Homo sapiens: one gene and its partners. The protein of the gene in region 1 purifies or fractionates together with the protein of each later gene. This does not show direct contact. Each region holds a gene or a part of one and is shown on either strand. Other genes may lie near its edges.

Evidence for each region. Proteins that work in one complex are often made in the same cells at the same time.
Region 2: the proteins of PKP2 (region 1) and FGG purify together in Homo sapiens (co-immunoprecipitation; one large-scale study listed by IntAct). This does not show direct contact.
Region 3: the proteins of PKP2 (region 1) and SERPINB5 purify together in Homo sapiens (co-immunoprecipitation; one large-scale study listed by IntAct). This does not show direct contact.
Region 4: the proteins of PKP2 (region 1) and ALDH2 purify together in Homo sapiens (co-immunoprecipitation; one large-scale study listed by IntAct). This does not show direct contact.

Annotation. Positions count from the first base shown.
Region 1 is NC_000012.12:32,872,778-32,876,277, forward strand, and holds part of PKP2 (plakophilin-2), read right to left. Parts: intron 1-3,500. UniProt on the Homo sapiens protein: A component of desmosome cell-cell junctions which are required for positive regulation of cellular adhesion.
Region 2 is NC_000004.12:154,606,664-154,609,656, forward strand, and holds part of FGG (fibrinogen gamma chain isoform gamma-B precursor), read right to left. Parts: coding exon 2,967-2,993; intron 1,988-2,966; coding exon 1,803-1,987; intron 320-1,802; coding exon 42-319; intron 1-41. UniProt on the Homo sapiens protein: Together with fibrinogen alpha (FGA) and fibrinogen beta (FGB), polymerizes to form an insoluble fibrin matrix. Has a major function in hemostasis as one of the primary components of blood clots.
Region 3 is NC_000018.10:63,486,958-63,490,457, reverse strand, and holds part of SERPINB5 (serpin B5), read right to left. Parts: coding exon 3,375-3,500; intron 1,112-3,374; coding exon 994-1,111; intron 1-993. UniProt on the Homo sapiens protein: Tumor suppressor. It blocks the growth, invasion, and metastatic properties of mammary tumors.
Region 4 is NC_000012.12:111,790,933-111,794,432, forward strand, and holds part of ALDH2 (aldehyde dehydrogenase, mitochondrial isoform 1 precursor), read left to right. Parts: intron 1-373; coding exon 374-487; intron 488-1,128; coding exon 1,129-1,231; intron 1,232-1,665; coding exon 1,666-1,850; intron 1,851-3,500. UniProt on the Homo sapiens protein: Required for clearance of cellular formaldehyde, a cytotoxic and carcinogenic metabolite that induces DNA damage.

The DNA of each region.
Region 1 (3,500 bases):
TTGGAAAGATGACTCTGGAATGGATATGTGTTTCTTGAAAGAGAGACAGCGTTGAGGGCACTATAAAAGGTTCAGCTGAGGCAAAAAAGCCTTGAACTGGGCTGTTAAAAATGGAAATGGAAAAAAAAGGTAGAGTTGAAAGAGATGAAAAATTAAAGAACTAAAGCAGGTAGTAATTAAGAGGACGTGGAGGGAAGTCAATATGATCTGTTTTCTGCTCTGCAGTGCTCTTGGTCACAAATTTGACTGTCAATCCTAGAGAAGATCCACCCTCTCTGCTTAGTCTCCCTCAACTAATCCCAGAGCACGATGCTCTTGTGGGTTTTGTTTGTTTTGCTTTGAGACAGGGTCTCACTCTGTTGCCCAGGCTGGAGTGCAGTGTCACGATCATGGCTGACTGCAGCCTGGACCTCCCAGGCTCAAGTGATTCTGTTGCCTCAGCCTCCTGAGTAGTTGGGGCTACAGGCATGCACCACCATGCCCAGCTAATTCTTGTACTTTGTAGAAGTGGGGTTTTGCCATGTTGCCCAGGCTGGTTTCAAATTCCTGGGCTCCAGCAATCTGCCAGCCTCAGCCTCCCAAAGTGCTGGGATTACAGGTGTGAGCCACCATGCCCGGCCCTGCTCTTGTGTTCTTTAAATTTCTGTAGACACTAATATGTATCACACAACCTAGCACTTGATGATATATCCTATTTTTCACTGCTCCTCTCCTAGACCATCATACATCTCACTCAATTTTCATCTTTTATTTATTTAATTATTATTTTGGAGACTGAGTCTTGCTCCTTCGCCCAGGCTGGAATGCAATGGCACGATACCAGCTCATTGCAACCTCCGCCTCCTGGGTTCAAGCAATTTTCCTGCCTCAGCCTCCTGAGTAGCTGGGATAACAGGCATCCACCACCATGCCTGGCTAACTTTTGTATTTTTAGTAGAGACGGGTTTTCACCATGTTGGCCAGGCTGGTCTCAAACTCCTGACCTCAAGTGATCCGCCCACCTCGGCCTCGTAAAGTGCTGGGATTACAGGCGTGAGCCACCGCGTCCGGCCCATTTTCATCTTTTGTGATGCTTACTGGGAAGGACCTATGAAGATCCTACTACTCATTTGCAGAACCATCAGCCTCCAACTGGTCATAAATCATGGTTTTAGAAAAATTCATCTATAATTTTTTTTGTGGTGATTCTTAAAAACCTTTTTCATCAGTTTGATTTAGAACATCGGTTTCATCAGTTTGTCTCTCTCACACTCCAAGTCTCAGTTTTTAGCTGCATTAGTAACTGTTTAACCAGCCATTCTTCTTTTGGAAAGCCAGGTCCATTGTTTAATACCTTAAGTCATTATGCAGGTTTATGGTTTTGTCCAGTTAATATTCAACATATATGAAAGAATACTCCTTTACATGTGGGAGTTTCACTAGGCATAAAAACTTAAATCCCCCCCAAAAAAGGGCTGGACAAAGTTTGACAATGCGGGACCAAAGAGAACACAGTGTGTGGTCTCAGGGCAGGTGTCCCAGGGAGCAGCCTGGGGAACTGAAATGAGGCGTGGAGCCCAGCAGAGGAAAGGGGGAGGTCAGACAGGCACAGGCACCACCTTGGGCATCTATCTTCCTCATTACACAAAATACGTCTGGCTCCCTCTCCTTTTCACAGAGAGCCAAATTTTCCTTTCATAATCAGAGAAAAAAAGTTGATTTCTATGATTTCTACTCTCTAGAATTTGGGGAAATCTCAGGAAGAGATTTCTTACTCATTATTTTTAAATTTCTTGACCCCAAGTGTTCCTTCTACTCTTGGAAATATGATTAAATATTATAATACAATTTACCCTGTCTATTAAAACAATAATCCAAAAATAGTATGACTAATACTTCTAGAATTTGAGCAACAAAAGAACCTAGATGGCAAAAAGTAAAATTTATATTTCATTTCTCCTTCCTTTAATTCCTTCACTCTTTCACCATATACTTATTTTTTGAAAGAAGATCTCATTCTGTTGCCCAGGCTGGGGTACAGTGGCACAATCACAGCTCACTGTAGCCTCAACCTCCCTGGCTCAAGCAATCCTCCCACTTCAGCCTCCGGAGTAGCTGGGACCACAGGTGGGCACTATCACGCCAGGCTAAGTTGTTTATCTTTAATAGAAGTGGGGTCTCGGGGTCTCCCTATTTTGCCCAAGCTGGTCTCAAACTCCTGGGCTCAAGCGATCCTCCAGCCTGGGCCTCCCAAAGTGCTAGGATTACAGATGTGAGCCACTGTGCTGGCCTCATCATATATTTATACAGTGCCTACTATAGGCCTACTTCCATTTTAGGGTGCTGAGAATATAAAGATGATTGAGCATTCACAAAAATCTCAAAGTCCAGAGGGAGAACAGATAAGCAAATGAATAGCCACAATATATTTTTCTGATAGAGACACTCACACAAGGCTGCTATCTGGGGCACCTAAGCTAGACTGGGAAGGAAGTGGTCAGAAAATAGGTGGTATCTGAGCTAAATCCAGAATTATAAGTAGTCAGACAAAAGTAGAGCTGCATATGTAAAGGTGTGGAGTGGGGGAAAAGAAGGAAAGAGAGAGAGAATGAATATGGATAAATATCTTGCATTAAGGAAAGTAAAGAGGTTCCAGGTGGTTTGGGTATTGGTATGTGGGTATGTTTGGGGATGGTGGTGATGAATGGCAGAGAAGAGTAGAAGGAGAAGAGGCTGAAGTGATAAGCAGAGCTGAAAACACAATGGGGCTTGTAGGTCATGCCTAAAAGCATGAACACTTAGTGGAATTATGGAAGGGTTATAAACAATCACATGTGGAAAGATAATTCTGACAGTCCTAGAGAACGGTTCTGACTGAGCAAGACCAGAGGCAGAGAGCCCTGTGTAATGGAAATGGAAAGAAGGGTAAAAATTCAAGACCCATCATAGAAGGAAAAATATGGCTTGGTGATAGGTGACTACAGAGGGAGAAGATAAGAATGACTTCCAGGTTTGAAAATAGTAGACTACAGCAGGAGGAGATGGGTGGAAGTTGAGGATAGGGAGATGATGAGTTTAGTTTAGGATATACTGAGTGTGAAATTTCCAGGAGGTTGTTACATTTTCATATAGGTCCAGAATTTGGCATCAAGGATGGAATTGCAGACAAAACTTTGAGAACCATAAGGATAAAAGTGAGGTACACAGAGCCTCTCTGGAAGAGCATCAAGACTTGGAATAGAAGGGTTACTGAAGATGCCTTCTTTGAGCAGGCAGAAAGGGAGCACGCAGAGAACACTAACAAAGAATGGCTGGAGAGGTGAGTGGAAAACCAGGGGAAGCTGGTGCCCTGAAAACCAAGGGATGAGAGAATTTCATGGTGTCTCAAACACCACCCACAGGTTGAGTAATATAAGCAGTGCTTATATTACTCAATATAGTGTCTGCTTAGGATGTAGCAGATAAGGCCATCATTGCTACATTTGTCAGGAGACTGTTTAGGTGGAATGGAGGGGACTGAA
Region 2 (2,993 bases), on another chromosome or scaffold:
ACACTATACATTAACTTGGAATCTAAGAAAGGAAAACATACCTTGGTAATAAACTCCATTGAGATGGCCAGCGTGACACTTGTTCATCCACCAACCAGATCCATCCTGTTCAGCACAGTTGCCTTCAAACTTATCATTGTCATTGTCCCAGGTACTGAACTGCATGCCATTATGGGATGTGAAAAACTTGTCACTAGGATCATCGCCAAAATCAAAGCCATCAAAGGCATCTCCAGCATCCCCACCAGCGAAGTAGGCATATGTTAGGCGGTACTTGTCAGCTTCAGGTCCCACCTTGAACATGGCATAGTCTGCAGTACTGAGAAGAAGGAAATACAACCATCACATGCTGACCCTCCTCAGGGATCTCAGAAGTTCCCTCTTTCGTAGGATGCTTCCTTGGAATTTTTGACTTTGTTTCTTAAGGCTGAAATTTGCTCATTGAGTGAAGTTTTTTGCAAATCTGGCAAGAGGCAATAGATATGTGAACCAGTCCACAGCTCATTAACACTTCCCGGGATGGGCCTAGAAGCCTTTGAAGCATCTCTGAAAACTAATAATTGCACTCACTTGGATGCTTTTTTGCTTGTTTCATTCTAAGATCAAATCCAGATGTGTAGATGACTCTAATTTCATATTTTCTACTTTTATTGAAATGTTATGTGTTGCACACACATTATCATAGATCACAGAAAGTATCTGACAGTGAGTGACCCTTAATTATTGCACAAAACTTGAAGGAGGTACAGTTCCATTAGCCACTCATAGCACCTGAAGGGTTAGGTGCTAAAGGGATTTTCTTCCTCAAATCAGTGTGGTAGTGGCAAGAAGGAGAGCTTCTGAGGGCATTACACAATCAAAGTCTTCCCTGTGTGGTCCAAAGCATGTGAGCTGAAGGAGTTAGAGAGATTCTTTCCTGGAAAAAATTGTGCAAGTGGACAACACTTCTATAGAGTGGGGGAAAGGATGGGCCTTAATGAATGAACAGAAATTTCCAGAAAATATTTAGCTTATTTTCTAATCTCCAGTGGCTGGGAAATGGAAGGTCCTTTCCTAGAAGAAGGTCTACTGACTATAGCACTTTCTGGATTAAAAACCAACCAAGCAATAAAAAAAAGTCCATGTGTTTGAAGACAATATATTTCACTATTCCTTATACATAACAAGAGGGTTGGATATTTTTCTGCATTTTAATTAGGTAACAATGCTTAAAACCTTCAAATATCTCAAGCAAAAAGAAGCCTCTAGATCATCAAAAGAGCTAGCTGGTTTACTTTTAGGGTAGCTCATGATTTGACAGAATAAATGGCCATCAAGGCACTGAGAAGTCTGAAGAGGCTGTATTTGCTTTTCAACCAGGATAGTTGTTAAGAGGACAGGCTCTAAAGTTAAACTACTTGAGTCTGAATTCTACCTCTACCACTTATCAGCAATGTGACTTTGAGCAAGTTAATCTATAAAATGGGATTAATAATAATACCTGCTTCATGAAATAGTAATTTAGACTAGATAAAATTATAATTTTATGCTCAATTCCTGGGACTGATTAAAAGTTCAGTAATTAGCTATTACTCTGAATGGTTCCAGGGTAATTAGATTGTACCAATACACTTAGATTCATCCTGAATAGAATTTACCTTTTTGGATTGCCCAAGAACCAAACAGACTCCTGGAGAAAATGGTGGCTGGATGTGCTGTTTGCATTTGTCAGGCTGCATTTGCCATTGTCTATTGATAGTTGGAAAGTGCACATTCCAGGCAATCTTTACAATAAAAAGTTGGAAGTCATTTCAAAACAGTACCTGGTTCTGCCATTCCAGTCTTCCAGTTCCACTCTTAATGCATATGGGATGGCAGACTGTGTGCTTATCAAATGAATCTTCTCATTTCCCAGCCAAAATTCTGTTGTGCCAGTAGGAGACAGATGTCCAAATCCTTCTTTATATTGAATCCAGTTTTTCTTGAAATCTACACTGCCATCAAGTCTCTAATTACACATTTGCAAGAGCAAAAGGAGAAAATAGACTATCAATGCATGTAAAGAGAATGCTGTCAACATTTTGTCAAAAATACAGAGCACTGGTTCTATCAACTCCCAACTAAGTGATCTTGGCCAAGCTACCTCAGTTTCCTCATGTATCAAATAGGAAAAATGATGGTTACTTCTTAGGGTTGCTGCAAGGATCATGAGAGAGAATATAAGAGAAATACTTAAGAGGGTTTCTGGCACATCATAAATTCTAAATGAGTGGTAATATTAAAAAGACACCTAGACGACTTCAGAACTCTAGCTGGATATTACTGATTCTTACACTTATGATGGAACCCATTGCTCAATCGGTGTCTGGCAACTAATGCTTCCACCATTCATTCCCTCTGAGCGCCCCCTGTAGAAACAGTTATAACAGTGGTGGGAGGTAAACAGAAAGTAAAGGAGCCAAGATTCCTAGTGGGTATCAGCAAGTGGCAGATGCAACACAGGTTCCTTGTCTTGGAGCAGCCCAAGTGTATCCTCTGGTGTGTGAAAGGGTGGTGATGGTGGTGGGGTGGTGGGGGGTGGTGTTGGGCTTCCTCATCTTGTGATGGGAAACCTCAGGTCTTGACCTACCTGACAAAAGAGTTTCCTTCTTTTTATTTGTCACTGTGGTACTATGATTATGTGCCACCATGAATCTACAAAGTCAGTGCCAGTACAATATAGAGTCAAGTCACAAACTCTGAAACTATACTGCCTAGGTTCAAATGCTGACTCTGTTGCTTATTAGTTATGTGGTCTTGGGCAAGTTATTTAACCTTGTGTGCCTCAGTTTCCTTTTCTGTAAATAGGAGTAACAGAAGTACCTTCCTCTTAGGGCTATTGCAAGGATTAAATGAGCTACGGTTCACAAGGTGCTTAGAAAAGTATCTGCCATATGGCAGAAACAATGTAGGAATTTATTAAATACACATGGTGGGGAAAAAATTACCTTCTGAAACACAGTCCATCCATTTCC
Region 3 (3,500 bases), on another chromosome or scaffold:
ACTGGGGAGGGGGACAAAGTCACTGATTTGCCCTCAAAATCATCATAACCCTAATTCTTTTCCAGCAAGGAAGACGACTCACCGGCAATTTTAAGGGAGGGACGAGGAGTCCGACGAGGGAGACGCCTGGGGGAAGCACTGAGCCGGAGAAAGAACCTAGGAGCTTCTTGGACCCCGGGGCTATCAGAGGAACGACCAGCATGGGGAGCTGCGGCACCGAGGACAAGCTGACACTACGGTTTTGTTTGGTTTGGTTTTCTTTTTTTAAGACAGAGTCTCACTCTGTCGCCCAGGCTGGAGTGCAGTGGCGCGATCTCTGCTCACTGCAAGCTCCGCCTCCCGGGTTCACGCCATTCTCCTGTCTCAGCCTCCCGAGTAGCTGGGACTACAGGCGCCCGCCACCACGCCCGGCTAATTTTTTGTATTTTTAGTAGAGACAGGGTTTCACCGTGTTAGCCAGGATGGTCTCGATCTCCTGACCTCGTGATCCGCCCGCCTTGGCCTCCCAAAGTGCTGGGATTACAGGCGTGAGCCACCGCGTCCAGCCGGTTTTTCTTTTACATATGTTGCCTATGTCCCTTTTTCCTTAACAAATTTGTAAAATTTGTCAGCTGAAAGGGGCCTCGGGGATCATGAAGTTATAATCCAGTCCCTCTATTTCCAGACTGAAAAATGGCCTCATGATTGGCCCAAAGTCATACTTTGTTAGAGGCGCAGCTAGGATTCCACTAGGGCCTGTGACAGCTCGTCAGAGAGCAAGACAAAGTAAACTAACACTGAAGCATCAACAGTTTCTACCAAGTGATGAGATGATACAAGAATTGCCCAGAAATCCAAGTTGTTTACAGGCTTGAAGGGAAAGAATTTAGCTTGTGTAGTAAAAATATCCAGAGAATCCTCCAGATGTTTTTTTTATCCTTGGAGCAAACATTTATGAGATGGAAGGCCCTGTTTACTTGGTGATTGATAGCAGAACAATTAAAGGGTACTTGCCATCTGTGAGATCCTTAATTGAGTTGTTGATCTGACCTTTCGTTTCTTCCAATTTATCTTTGAAGTCAACAGTTTCCAATTCCTTTGCATACGGTCTCTTCGTAGAGCTGATGAACTCCTGAAAAACATGCAGTTCATAAAATCAGAGTCTGTAGTCAAGCTATTGCATTGTTATTCTCTTCTAACAAAAGGATTATTAAATATCAACTGCTATATGTACACTTTCAAAATTGGTAACACTATATGAATTGAAACCTCATGTAGAAGTCAGTGAATTTCTTTGTATTGAATGTTTCATTTTTTTCAATTATAAGACAATTTCAATTATTAAATGCATCTATCAATTTAATATCAGCTTTGGGGAAAACACTATGTTAAATATGCCCAATTCTCTTATGGGTTGTAATTTCAGAAACATGAAAATTTTGTATGTCTACAGATACATATATATTAGAATATAGGAAATGTATAGAAAACAGAATTATGAGCAGAAAACTCTTGTCTTTGCTGAACTAAATATCCTGTAGACCCTTGCTACTCAAACTGTGGTCCAAGGTGGTGTACAGCATCACCTGAGACCTTGTTAGAAATAAAGAATCTCAGACCCCACCCCAGACATACTGAATCAGAATGCATTTTAACAAAATTTCCAGGTGTGCCATCTGCAAATTAAGGTTGGAAACACAATGCAGGAGAGAACATAACAGGAGTTCTTATTCTAATGCTTATTTAAAATGTGCAACCCTAAACCCCATTCCCACCTTGACAATCAGAACTACCTGGGTTTAATCAGAACTACCTGGGTTCAATCAGAACTACCTGGGTGTTAAAAGGGCCTGAAGAACTTGCCCTTTTAACACCCAGATAGTTCTTATGCAAGAGATCCTCCACAGAGCACACTTGTTTGGACCTTTAACTAGTAAATTTGCAGATGCTGTGCACCTAGCAGGAGCAATGGAAAGCAGTCTTTTAAAAAATCTTTTGTAATGAGCCGAGATCATGCCGCTGCACCCCAGCCTGGGCAACAGAGAAAGACTCCATCTCCAAGGAAAAAAACAAAACAAAACTTTACAACTCCTAGTCTGGTTAAGATCATTCCAGATGTTGCATGGAAGTTCAGTGAAACTAAATATAACTTGATTCAGTGTCATGTCAGTTCACTTCCAAGCACAGGGCTTCTTGAATTTCTTCAGAGCAGCTTCAGCCTTAGCCAATTAACTTAGCTTCAGTTAATTGCAAATCAACCTTGGGACTCACTGTCACCATTGACTGACAGAACCAATCTCACCTGAAAACATTAGAAAGCCTCAGCCAGATGAAGGAGGGCCTCCATTGTCCTCACTGCCAGCAATAAAAATGTGTTAATTGTCTCTTTAATGATCATTTAGGGAGCTTCTAGAAATGTTGTATGCTCAGGCTTCAACTCACATCTCAGTTTTTTTTTTTAAATTCTTCAGATGATTGTTGGAAGAAAAATGGTTGTGTGTATGTATCTTTAAGCAACAAAAAATATACTCACAATATCTAGTAACCCATGTCCTCAAAAGATCTTAACCACAAAAATACCTACTGCAGAAAGTTGCAAAATCATGGTAAAATATTTAAAAGCTGGTAGTCTAGCTTTTCGATTTGGAAACCTTGAAATTCTGACCATCCAAACAGGAACTAAATCAACTCTGTGTTACTGAAGTACAGAGGGAAACTTCATGTAGTCTAGAATATTGTCTGTGTGTTTCAAATACAGATTTTTAAATATTACAACAATGGGTACCGTAGTGGTGTTTGTATGATTCCTTAGAGCAATGGCTAAACTTATATAACCAGAGCTGCCTGTGGAGATCCCCATCTGACCAGCCCAGCCAACAAAACTAATTTGTGACTGATGAAAATTGTGAATTCATAGTTATTATTTTTCTTACTGATTTTGAGAAACATCAGAAGAATGTGTGCATAAAAAATGAGGTGGAGAGCTTAAAACATTGTCCCAGGCCATATGCCCTGCTCTTTAAGGAGAAAGAAGTTTAAATCATTAGCTGTCTTACACTCTGTAAGACAGCTCATTGTCTATGGAGCTACATTTATTAGAGAGTTAATTACTCTGTTCTCCATTCTCTCAGAGGAAGGTAAAAGAAAGGGTAAGATTTATTTGAGAGAGAAAAGGAAAGCCCATAAGCTTCTCTGTATTTTGAGTTAGAAGATGTGACTGCAATTGATTCCCACTATACTCAACCTCTCCACTAGGATTTATTTATTTAAAGCCTCAAATCACAAGTGAACATCCTAGAAAGGAATTTCACTGAAAAAAAGTTGTAGGTCTAACAGCATGAAAATGCCACTCCTTGTAAAAAGTTAAGTCTTGCTACTTGCTTTAAACAACTTACTGTAGAAAGATTCAGAGATTTGTCTACGTAGAGCCGCTTGATTAGTTTCAGTGAGTAAAAGGAACTAAGTTTGTTTACATCCGATGTTACTGTTTGAAATCCAAAGGGTACATCTTTGACATTTTC
Region 4 (3,500 bases), about 79 Mb from region 1:
CAACTACTTGGGAGGTTAAGGCAGGAGGATCACTTGAGCCCAGGAGTTTGAGGCTGCAGTGAGCTGTGATCACACCACTGCACTCCAGCCTGGGTGCCAGAGAGAGACTCGGTCTCAAAAAACAAACAAAAACCCACTGTTGTTCTAAGTGAATGCTGTCAGGGGAGGGGCAAAGACACAGGGAACCCCAGCGAACAGACTCCTTCTCCGTCCCATTTAGAATTCCCATGTAGTGCCCCATACAATTAGCTTCTGACCACATGTGTCCTTGGCAGACTGTCCCACCCTCTCTGAGAAAGGATGTGTCTTCCCCTGGTTGAGCCCTTCAGAATAGGAGGGTGACTCCCAATGTCCCCTGGCTGTTTGCTCACAGGCTGGCTTTCCCCCTGGTGTGGTCAACATTGTGCCTGGATTTGGCCCCACGGCTGGGGCCGCCATTGCCTCCCATGAGGATGTGGACAAAGTGGCATTCACAGGCTCCACTGAGGTAAGGTGACCCTGGCCTCAAGCTTGCAGCCTCCTTGGCCCAAGCTCCCCCTGTCCTCAGTGGACGACATGCTCAAGGTGAGCTCCCGGGTGTCAAGCGGAGGCCTTTTCCTCCAGGACGACCCTGTAGGTACCAGGAGGGGTGGGGCAGGGTTGAGCCCTTCGTGGTCTGGTTGCCACACTAGCTGCCCTTGGGAGGGGCCAGTGTCCCATGTGGACTAAGGAGGCCAGGCCTGGCCAGACTCCACATAGCCCAGAGCTGACCGCTTGCCCCAAATCAAAGCATCTTGGCCAGGTCAGACTCCTTGACCAGGACTGCCATTGTGGTTAAAAATTAGCCTTGTGTGGTGGTGTGTGCGTGTGGCCCCAGCTACTTGGAAGGCCGAGGCAGGAGGGTTGCCAGAGCCTGAGAGGTCAAGGCTGCAGTGAGCTGAGATCACGCCACTGCACTCCAGCCTAGGTGACAGAGCGAGACCCTGTCCAAAAGAAAAAAAAAGTGAACGTCTATTTGGTGAAATTCTCTAGGTCTCTCGTGGTCCAGTTGCTCACTCAAGCTGTGGGGGACTCTGTTCTGTGTCTATAGAGTGCTGGACTCTTTTCTCCCGGCACTGAGAGCTTGTTCCTGTCTTTCTGTCCCCACAGATTGGCCGCGTAATCCAGGTTGCTGCTGGGAGCAGCAACCTCAAGAGAGTGACCTTGGAGCTGGGGGGGAAGAGCCCCAACATCATCATGTCAGATGCCGATAGTGAGTTTCCAGCTGGAGAAGGCCTGGCCTTGAAGGTAGCCCTGGCCACCTGTGTTGTGGCTCCAGCCGATCCTGTCGCCCCCCCAGTGCCCAATGGCGTTGGTTGCTGTCCCTCGGGCCTCAGGATAAGACGCCAGCGCAGGGCCTGCATGGCCTGGCCTTGGCCTGTCCCCAGCCTCTCCCTGGCTGCTCTCTGCATCATCAGGCTAGGCCACGCCCCTGCTATCTGACTCATCCACTTGCCGCCATCACGCCCTTTGTCCTGGTTGGCAGTGGGCTCCGAGAGCACCCCTCATCTCCCTGTATCTGTCTCTGGCACCCAGCAGGCATCAACCCTTACAGTGGTGGGAACAGGCTCCATTGGGCAGGCGGCCACCAGGGCCAGGGTCCTCCTCCTCACTGTCACCTTTCTGTCTCCTGCCCACTTCCCGCAGTGGATTGGGCCGTGGAACAGGCCCACTTCGCCCTGTTCTTCAACCAGGGCCAGTGCTGCTGTGCCGGCTCCCGGACCTTCGTGCAGGAGGACATCTATGATGAGTTTGTGGAGCGGAGCGTTGCCCGGGCCAAGTCTCGGGTGGTCGGGAACCCCTTTGATAGCAAGACCGAGCAGGGGCCGCAGGTGAGCCAGGCAGTGCCGCAGGGTCTGGGTGTCTAGAGCCAGCATGAGAAGCAGAGAGGGCATCGGGCTCAGATCAGTTGGGACTGGGTTCAGGTCTCAGCTCTACCACACAGCAGCTGTGTGCCTTTGGGAAGCTATGTTCCCTCCCTCAGCCTTCATTTCCCCATCCCGAGCCGTGCCCTGCCTCATTCACAGGGTGGCTGTGATGTAGAAATTAATCCTGGGAAGCACTTTGTAAATTGCATATATGTAACAAATACCAGGAGTGTCTGCAAAAGGGAGTGTGTGTTTCCAAGACCTTGGTCATCAGTAGAAGTGTATCCACCAGAAGATACACAGCTCTGTGAACCTTCGTGTCTGAGAGCCATGGTATGGCTAGTATAGGGACTTTATTTCACTTCATGTTTTGAGCTGTTTGATTTTATTTATTTATTTATTTACCTATTTATATTTTAGAGACAAGGTCTCTCTTTGTTGCCCAGGCTGGAGTGTAGTGGTGCAATCATACCTCACCTCAGCCTTGAATTCCTGGGCTCAAGGAGTCCTCCTGCTTTGGCCTCTCAAAGTGCTGGGATTACAGACATGAACCACCACACCTGGCCTGGATTTTACTTTTGAGCAGTTGTAGGTTTATAGAAAAATAGAGCTGAACGTACAGAGGGTGCCCATATATTCCTTCGCACCTCCCTGTTCCACCAGTTTCCCCTTTATTCACATCCTGCATGAGTGTGGTTCATCTGTTAGTATTGATGAGCCAATACTGGTACCTTATTATTCACTTAGGTCTGTAGTGTATATTCGGGTTTTTTTTTTTAATTTTTATTTTTTTTGGAGACAGAGTTTTGTTCTGTCACCCAGGCTGCAGTGCAGTGGCACGATCTCGACTCATGCCTCCCGGGTTCAAGCAATTCTTGTGCCTCAGCCTCCTGAGTAGCTGGGACTACAGGTGCGCACCACCACGCCTGGCTAATTTTTTGTGTTTTAGTAGAGACAGGGTTTCACTCTGTTGCCCAGGCTGGTCTCGAACTCCTGAGCTCGGGCAATCTGCTGTCAGGCACCCAGCCTCGGGGTCATTTTTTGTGTTGTACTTACTATGGGCCTAGACAAATGTATCATAATGTGTATGATACCATCATTCTAGTATCATATAAATATATTTGTGCCCTGAAACCCCCGTCCTCCACCTATTCTTCCCTCTTTTCCTCCCCTGAGCCCTGGCAGGCAACCACTGATTTTTTTTTTTTTTTTTTTTTTTGAGACAGAGTCTCGCTCCGTCACCAGGCTGGAGTGCAGTGGCGTGATCTCGGCTCACTGCAACCTGTACCTCCTGGGTTCAAGTGATTCTCCTGCCCCAGCCTCCTGAGTAGCTGGGACTTACAGGTGCATGCCACCATGCCCAGCTAATTTTTGTATTTTTAGTAGAGACAGGGTTTCACCACGTTGGCCAGGATGGTCTCGATCTCCTGACCTCGTGATCCACCCACCTCAGCCTTCCAAAGTGCTGGGATTACAGGCGTGAGCCATTGTGCCTGGCCGATCTTTTTATTGTCTCTATAGTTTTGCCTTTTCCAGATTGTCTTATACGAATCATACAGTAGGTAGCCTTCTCAGACTGGCTTCTTTCTTTTAGCAGTTTGCATTTCTGATTCC